2 linked regions of the Homo sapiens genome follow. The protein of the gene in region 2 purifies or fractionates together with the protein of the main gene of each other region. This does not show direct contact. Each region holds a gene or a part of one and is shown on either strand. Other genes may lie near its edges.

What was found.
Region 1: the proteins of FRK (region 2) and MKI67 purify together in Homo sapiens (affinity purification with mass spectrometry; one large-scale study listed by BioGRID and IntAct). This does not show direct contact.

What each region holds. Positions count from the first base shown.
Region 1 is NC_000010.11:128,109,383-128,113,207, forward strand, and holds part of MKI67 (proliferation marker protein Ki-67), read right to left. Parts: intron 3,064-3,825; coding exon 2,751-3,063; intron 2,664-2,750; coding exon 2,545-2,663; intron 2,435-2,544; coding exon 2,263-2,434; intron 1,152-2,262; coding exon 996-1,151; exon of another isoform or gene 565-995; coding exon of another isoform or gene 471-564; intron 42-470; coding exon 1-41. UniProt on the Homo sapiens protein: Protein that associates with the surface of mitotic chromosomes and acts both as a chromosome repellent during early mitosis and chromosome attractant during late mitosis.
Region 2 is NC_000006.12:115,931,765-115,935,589, forward strand, and holds part of FRK (tyrosine-protein kinase FRK), read right to left. Parts: 3' UTR 1-3,825. UniProt on the Homo sapiens protein: Non-receptor tyrosine-protein kinase that negatively regulates cell proliferation.

The sequences.
Region 1 (3,825 bases), on a different chromosome or scaffold from region 2:
CTGTTTTGCTGCATTCTGTGCACTGAAGAACACATTTCCTCCTGAAATAAAAACATACACAATAAAAACATTCTATTAGTGTCTCATGTCAATCGAGTATTACAGCCTCATAAAATATGGTAAAAAACTAAATATTTAGCTTCGTATTCACTGAACGACATGAGGCTACTTATGTGTCTATAAATCTGTCTTATAAGAGCCATGCACAATTAAGAATAATGTTATTTGGTGCTATAGTGGGGTCATCATTAAGCAAAGTTAGATGCTGAAATGATCATAGAAGGTAAAAATACTGCTTCAGAAGGTTCCTCCAAAGGTTGCCATGCCCTGTGTCATTGACGTAAATATAGGCATTTTTTCCTTCAAACATTAGAAACAAACAGCTGTTTCTTGCCTTAAATCGCCAATAAAATAACATGGATTATCCTTATGTGGTTAGGGTCCATATTACACAGGAAATATTTACCTACCGCAAACATCTTCAGGGTAGCAAGCTGTTCCCTCTGTGACAGGAATACAGTGACCAGTGCCAAATGAGAGATTAGACAGATTCTCATCTCCCATCTCACACTTACCCCGGGCCTGCTCCCACCTAAAAGGTTAGCAGGAATAATTGCACAGTATACAAACTGTTATCTTTCTGTTTTGTAATTGGCAGTAATTTTGAATATGAGTAATTTATATGTAAATATGGTGAGACACCATTGTATTTTTTTGCTATGTCACCCTGGTTACTTACAATAAAGAAGCCAAAAGTGTACACAGGTCATTTACACACATTAACGGAGTCTTTCTTTCTATATAAGTCAATGAATGCCAATGTTAGTTCAACTGCTGATTGAAATCTCCCTTTCAATTAGAACAGAGAAGACGGAAATGGTATTTTGTGCCAGGAACATTTGTTTTAGAGAAGTAATATCATACTGCTTGTAAAAAAATAATACTGTATGTTCCTATCCCAAAACATCACAGTGTTAGGAAACAAGGAAACCAACCAAAACTCTCTGAGGTGGGGAGCAGAGGTTCTTCTCCTGAATCAGTTCCTTGAAACTGTTTTCCAAGCAAATTCTCTGAATTTGAAATAGCGATGTGACATGTGCTTGTCAACTGCGGTTGCTCCTTCACTGGGGTCTTGAACATTTCAGCTATTCCTGTTAAATGAAAATATTTGAAAAGTGATTGACATATTGCTAACATGCAGACAACCATCCCAGCCCTCACATGTAACGTGCAAATGGTGGGAAATAACAGTAGATTCCTCCCTTGAAATCCTGGTACATAGGCCTCATAAAAAGAGTGATTCCATTAATAATGTACTCATTTTGTAAAAAAGAGAGCACAGAGAAGATATGTTATGCTCTTCGCTTTGCTTTTCTTGGAAAGGAAACAAATGAAGTTAGCTGACCTCTGGGTCCTCCTAACAAGACCCCACACGTGAGCTCTGGAGCACGGAGGCTGGTGACGGGCTCCTGAGACCCATAGGCCTCCCTGCTAGGATCTAGAGGCCAAATGCCTTCATGCTTCTCAAAGTCTTGGGTGCTCAGTTCTAGATTTTAAGTACAAATAACACGTACCCACATTTTAGAAAATGACAAAGAGCTGCCCATTTTTAGTACTGTCAAGTAATAATATATATTTTTGAAAATCTAATATCATTATCATTCTGTTTGGAATGATAGGAGGCCTCAGCCTCCCAAAGTGTTGGGATTACAGGCGTGAGCCACTGCGCCGGCCATCCCCACTTTAAATTACACAAGTCAGGCCACAATTTACTGAGAGTGGGAATTGAATGGAAATATTTCTTCAACAATCGTTTATGGGAATCTTCTCATAGGGCTTTCTTTCAAGAAAGTTAAGCTACCTAGAAAGTCAATCCTGAAGAAGCAAAATGTTGCTCAACAACAACTGGCCCACACCTGGGATAAACTATTATTGTACCTGCAGATTAACAAGTTAACTCTCTTCACTGTAAAGCACCTTCCAGCTTTCTATGTATACGCTGCTCTCCAGGGTAAAGACATGCATTTGACATTTCCACACCTATTTCATGCAGGACATGTGATCCCAAAAATTAGCAGAGACTTGTCTTTGCAAGCCAAAACAGCTTTATCTTCCCTGAACACTAAGACCCCAGAAGGGTGATTGAGTCGTTTATTTTATAATCTCTTTCACAGCAGATAAACAAAGTTAGCAAAACAAACATTAACACAGTAAAAAACAGTAGAGTCAAAAGATTTATAAGATCTAAGACTACGTTTTTACCTGAAAGATCTTCCTTAAAGTCCATTTTTTGGTTGGAAATGAAGTTGTTGAGCACTCTGTAGGGTCGAGCAGGCACATGTACTTTTTCAGTATGAGCTTTCCCTATTATTATGGTACAAGGAGAGTTTGCGTGGCCTGTACTAAATTGACTGTGAACTTCGCCCACAGGCTTCTGTAGAAAACAGGAAGGAGGTAAACAGGACATTAAAGCATAAATCCACACTGAATGCAAGCTTCGATGACACCGGTATGTGTAAAGCAGCCATTCAGTGAGGCCCCTACCTTTGGAGTAGCAGGTCTTCTTTGCCTTTTGTTCATTGACCTTTGAGGACCATGTTTTATGACTTTAGTTTGTGTTTGTTTTGCACCAAGTTTTACTACATCTGCCCATGATTTTGCAACTGTCAAAGGGAAAAGACGAAACTTTTCAAAAATTAGCATTCATGAAAAAATTCACCTTAATATATGTATTCTAATGTCAGACTAACCAATCAGATTTGCTTCCGAAGCACCACTTCTTCTTTTGGAACATATCATCTGTAAAATATCATGTTGACTTCGGCTGATAGACACTCTCTTTGAAGGCAGGTTGCCACTCTTTCTCCCTCCTCTCTTAGGAACCTCTGTCTGAGATTTGCTGCTGGAAGCAGGGGCTGTTTTGCAGGACCTACGGCGTTGATCACTGGCAACTGGAGTTTTCCTAGGACTAGGAGCTGGAGGGCTTATAACCAAGCTTTGTGCCTTCACTTCCACATGGATTTCTGAACCTGACTCTTGTTTTCCTGATGGTTGAGGCTGTTCCTGACAAGACAAAATTGTTTACAAGAAGCCTTAACAAGGATCTAACATCTCTGGAATGACTGATAAAAACCTATTCAGTTAAGAATTTCAGCTGTTTAAATCTTGAAGCATCAAATGCTTAAGCCACTGTCTTTGAAGACTATGGTAGAGGTGAGACTGTCTCAGTCATTTAAGGAAAAGGAAAGAGAAGCAAGCCAAGTCTGAAGTGAGGTCATTTCAGGTAAAAAGGTGGAAGGAACATCCTGATCAGTGAAAGACAAGCAGGGTCTGATCTCAGTCCCAGTAAATACCAGCTGTGAGCACCCAGCCCCCGGCAGTCCACATGGAGGGAGGACTGCTTGCCCCTGGGAGCCAGTGTAAAATGGAAAGGGAGCCAGACATCACTTTCCACTCCTGCTGGGAAGAGAAGGAAAGAAAGACCGCCCAGGCCCTATTACAAAGGTTATGAGCTATAGGGCCATGACTTCCCAGAGGTGTGAAACCCAGGAAGGACAACACAGCAAAGGAACAGGCAAGCAAATATTCTAAAGAGCTGAAGGTGTAAAAGGAAGATGTGCCATTGATTTTCCTTCACACCAGGTAAATGCCTTAACTATAGCCTTGTAACTCTAAAAGAAAATAAAACAATCCTTATGGGTCGACGTGGTAATGTATCCAGAATCTTTGTAATTGGCTATTCTGACGGTGCCTGCAGGTGATTACGCAGTGCTGTAAGCGTGGGTGTCTGGGAACTTCTGCACGAAAAGGACAACATCAAGGACT
Region 2 (3,825 bases):
AAAATATCAGAAAATCATTATAAAGCAATATTTAGTTTCTTCCAAACAGGGCAGTTTTAGTTGCTTTTAACCACTTTTTCCCAACATACAACTTCTGGTTATTAGGTAATATGACTTGAATCCTCTGCATGGTAATACTTCCAACTGGACACTTGAGGTGTGTTTGAGATATAGCACCCTTTTCTGGAAAAGCTGATTATTCTCCATGAAAATGAAAAAGATGTTACATTGACGTCTGTTGCTTCAAATGAATAATAGATAAATTAACTACCTAGGCAAGAAGAGTAAATGGAAATAATTGGGCATCTCTTTTCTTGTAATTTAATCTTATAACATCTCTGTAGATAGTGTCATCTGAATGTAGATTGAAGCTAAACTTGTTAAGGCTTTTGAAATTCAGGGTTTATATACTACTTTGTTCTCCAGTATATTTCTAAATTTCATAAATAACTTGAGAGGCCTACTAACATCACTTTCTTAACAAAAGCAGAGAAAAATCTAAGAGTTTAGTGGGGGAATGTAGGCAGTAAGAGGATAACACTGAAAATTAAGATATGAATTTAAAAGATTTTTAGATACTTTCCAGCATTTTTTTGATCCTATGACACTGAATATTTGCATCATGTTGAAGATTATAGACTGAATCTTCTACATAATAATTCCAGAAAAAACAAGAATCAAACATTGTCAGATCAGCCCACTGGCAATTCCAATACCCAGGTGTACAAACCTCATTTACTTTTACTTTAAGAATGGCCTTTCTCTTGAATTAAATGATGATGCAATTTGAATAAGGTACCCAAATCATCACCATTCTAGCTCACATAATGTGTCTTTTTAAAGAATCATAATGAGTCACCAATGACACAATACCAGAAAGGCTATTTGGTTCAGAAATCATATGCTCAACCAGACCATGAAAAAAGTGATTGTAGGTATGGCATATGCTTAACAAACCATGGAACACCAGCTGGGCTCTGCTTCCTTCAGGAAGCTCCAGCTGGGTAGTGGTATGGCATCCTTCCAATGGCAACAGTTTCCTTTAGGCCTCCACAGAGTCGGAAGAGTTTGGGCCCCTCCTGGTTCATTAGATCCACATGGTCATCATACAGATATTGTGGGTAGAAGCTGAGGGTGAGCCTAGCCTGATGTTACCCCACAGGCTAGTTCTTTGTCTGTCTTTTAAGTCAACCCATTCCCACAGCCAGTTTGCAGATTCCTGGTCACTCTGACTTTAACTTTGTTTTTGATGACAAAATATTCAGGTTCCACAACTATTCAGAGTCTACCCTGTGCCTCTTTTGACCTTAGGTAACTTAAATCTATTCCCTTATTTCCTTCCTTACCCTCTTTTTAAAAAAAAAGAAAAAGAAAAACTTAATGGAACATTGAATTTTCTTTATTGCAAATTCTTAGGGTTTCTGTCAAAAGAGATTTGAAATACAACATGAAATGATGTACTCACATCCCTCACCACCATCTCCAAATAACTGAATTACATAAATAAAACATTATATGAAAAGTGCTTTGCTACAATTTATGGGAGGTAAATTTAAGAAGAGCTGGCTCATTGTAGGAAAATTCAACTTATCTTTTCCTGATCCTTTTATTTAATACAGGGAGAGAAATTTATGGCAGTTAAAAAAATCTATTACTGTTTCTCATAACTGAATCCATTATTTTTCTCCATGATCCATCAGGTAAAAACAAGAATAATAGATTGCTTTGACAGAACCTTGAACATAAATGTCCCCAAGAATCAAACACAGTAAGTTAAACGGGTATCAGGTGGTATTAAAACAGGAAAGGATAAACTTCTTTTCATATTTCAAAATCAGATCTTACTTAAAAATTTATTATTATTAGCTACCAAAAAGAAACAAACTATATAGTGGCTGAATTTGCATATTGAAATGGGAATATTTCTATTCATTTCTATATGTGCGCAAGAAAAATTAAACATGAAATGAATTCAAAGAAAAGGAACTATTTTCTTTCCATTTATGCTAACTGGTTATTTATAATTTACTCCTTGATTGCATTAGACTAGATGACTTTAAATAAACAAGTTGTTCTATACACAGTCAACTAATTTGAAAGATTAGTGTTGATCTTATCTTAGAAATACTGTTTATAAAGGAATCAAGGGGTTCTATAATCTTTAGCTTCACATGACCCATTTAATTTCAAGGTCATCAGGAAAGTTTGGGTATATATGCACACATCTGCCTGGAATACACACACACACACACCATATAAACACACAAAAAAATAAATATATACACACTCAACATACCCGCATGTATATATTTAGAGAGAGAGAAAGGAGGGAGATGAGGTGATGATGATGATAGATGGGTGGATAGATAAATACAGAGATAGATAATTCTAACCGTTAATTCACCTCAGGGAATGTTCTCCTTAATGAACACCTCTCCAGCATCTCATATTCTCTGCTTTTATTCAGATAAGCCAACCTCTCAACTTGTCTCTGAGGAAGGTGACCACATTCCCAGATTCAGAGTCAGAACTTATTTTAATCCAATCAGCACATAACATTCACATTAAGCCTATTTTTGGTCCATGGCTGGGCATAGGACCCAAGTTTGCTGGAACACAAAAATGAAAATAATTTTTAATCCAAGCTTGGGATAGAGATTTCCCATTTTCTCTTGCCAGATGAGGAGAAGAGAACGCGGAACCCCAGTTTTGCCATTGATAGCCATCTGTGACCCTGGGAAGGAGGGCAATGCTGATGGCAGAGGGAGGCTTGGAAAGGACATGGGTCTTCGTTCACATTGAACTGCTAATGATATTGTGCCTGGAGCCCTCCCTACTTCCTGTCTCCCAGTTAAAAGAGTTTACAAATTTACTTCTTGTTTAATCTACTTTGAATTTGGGTTTCTGTAACTGTTTAGATAGGCGCTTCTCCTTTAAAGAAAGGCATGAGAATATACTCAAAATATTCTGCTTTCTCATGGCTTGTTTCATTCCTATTGCTTTACACTGGAAGATCTTTGAATATATATTTGATTTTGAAACCATCTTGGAAAAGTCTACCTAGTTATCTAATGAGACAGATAATTTGATACATGCATTGTTTAAAAAAACAATAACTTTGTTACAAAGTTTAATTCAAACTTAAGATGAGTAAAAACCCTCTTATCCTACCAGACCAAAAAAAAAAAAAAACTTTCATAACCAAGTTTGGACATTATTCCTAGCCTCTAGTTCTGAAATAGAGTTTGACCTATTTTGTAGTCCATTTAAAACTCTGGTCTGATTGCTGGCAAGATGGCCAAATAGGAACAGCTCTGGTCTGCAGCTCCCAGTGAGATCAACGCAGAAGGCGGGTGATTTCTGCATTTCCAACTGAGGTACCCAGTTCATATCAGTGGGACTGGTTGGACAGTGGGTGCAGCCCATGGAGGGCCAGCTGAAACAGGGTGGGGTGTCACCTCACCCAGGAAGCACAAGGGGTCAGGGAACTACCTCCTCTACCCAAGGGAAGCCATGAGGGACTGTACCTGAGGAACGGTGCACTCCAGCCCAGATACTGCACTTTTCCCATGGTCTTTGAAACCTGCAGACCAGGAGATTCCCTCCGGTGCCTACGCCACTGGGGCCCTGGGTGTCAAGCACAAAACTGGGCAGCCATTTGGGCAGACACTGAACTAGCTGCAGGAGTTTTATTTTCCATACCCCAGTGGTGCCTGGAATGCCAGCAAGGCAGAACCATTCACTCCCCTGGAAGGGGGGCTGAAGCCAGGGAGCCAAGTGGTCTAGCTTGGCGGGTCCCACCCCCACGGAGCCCAGCAAGCTAAG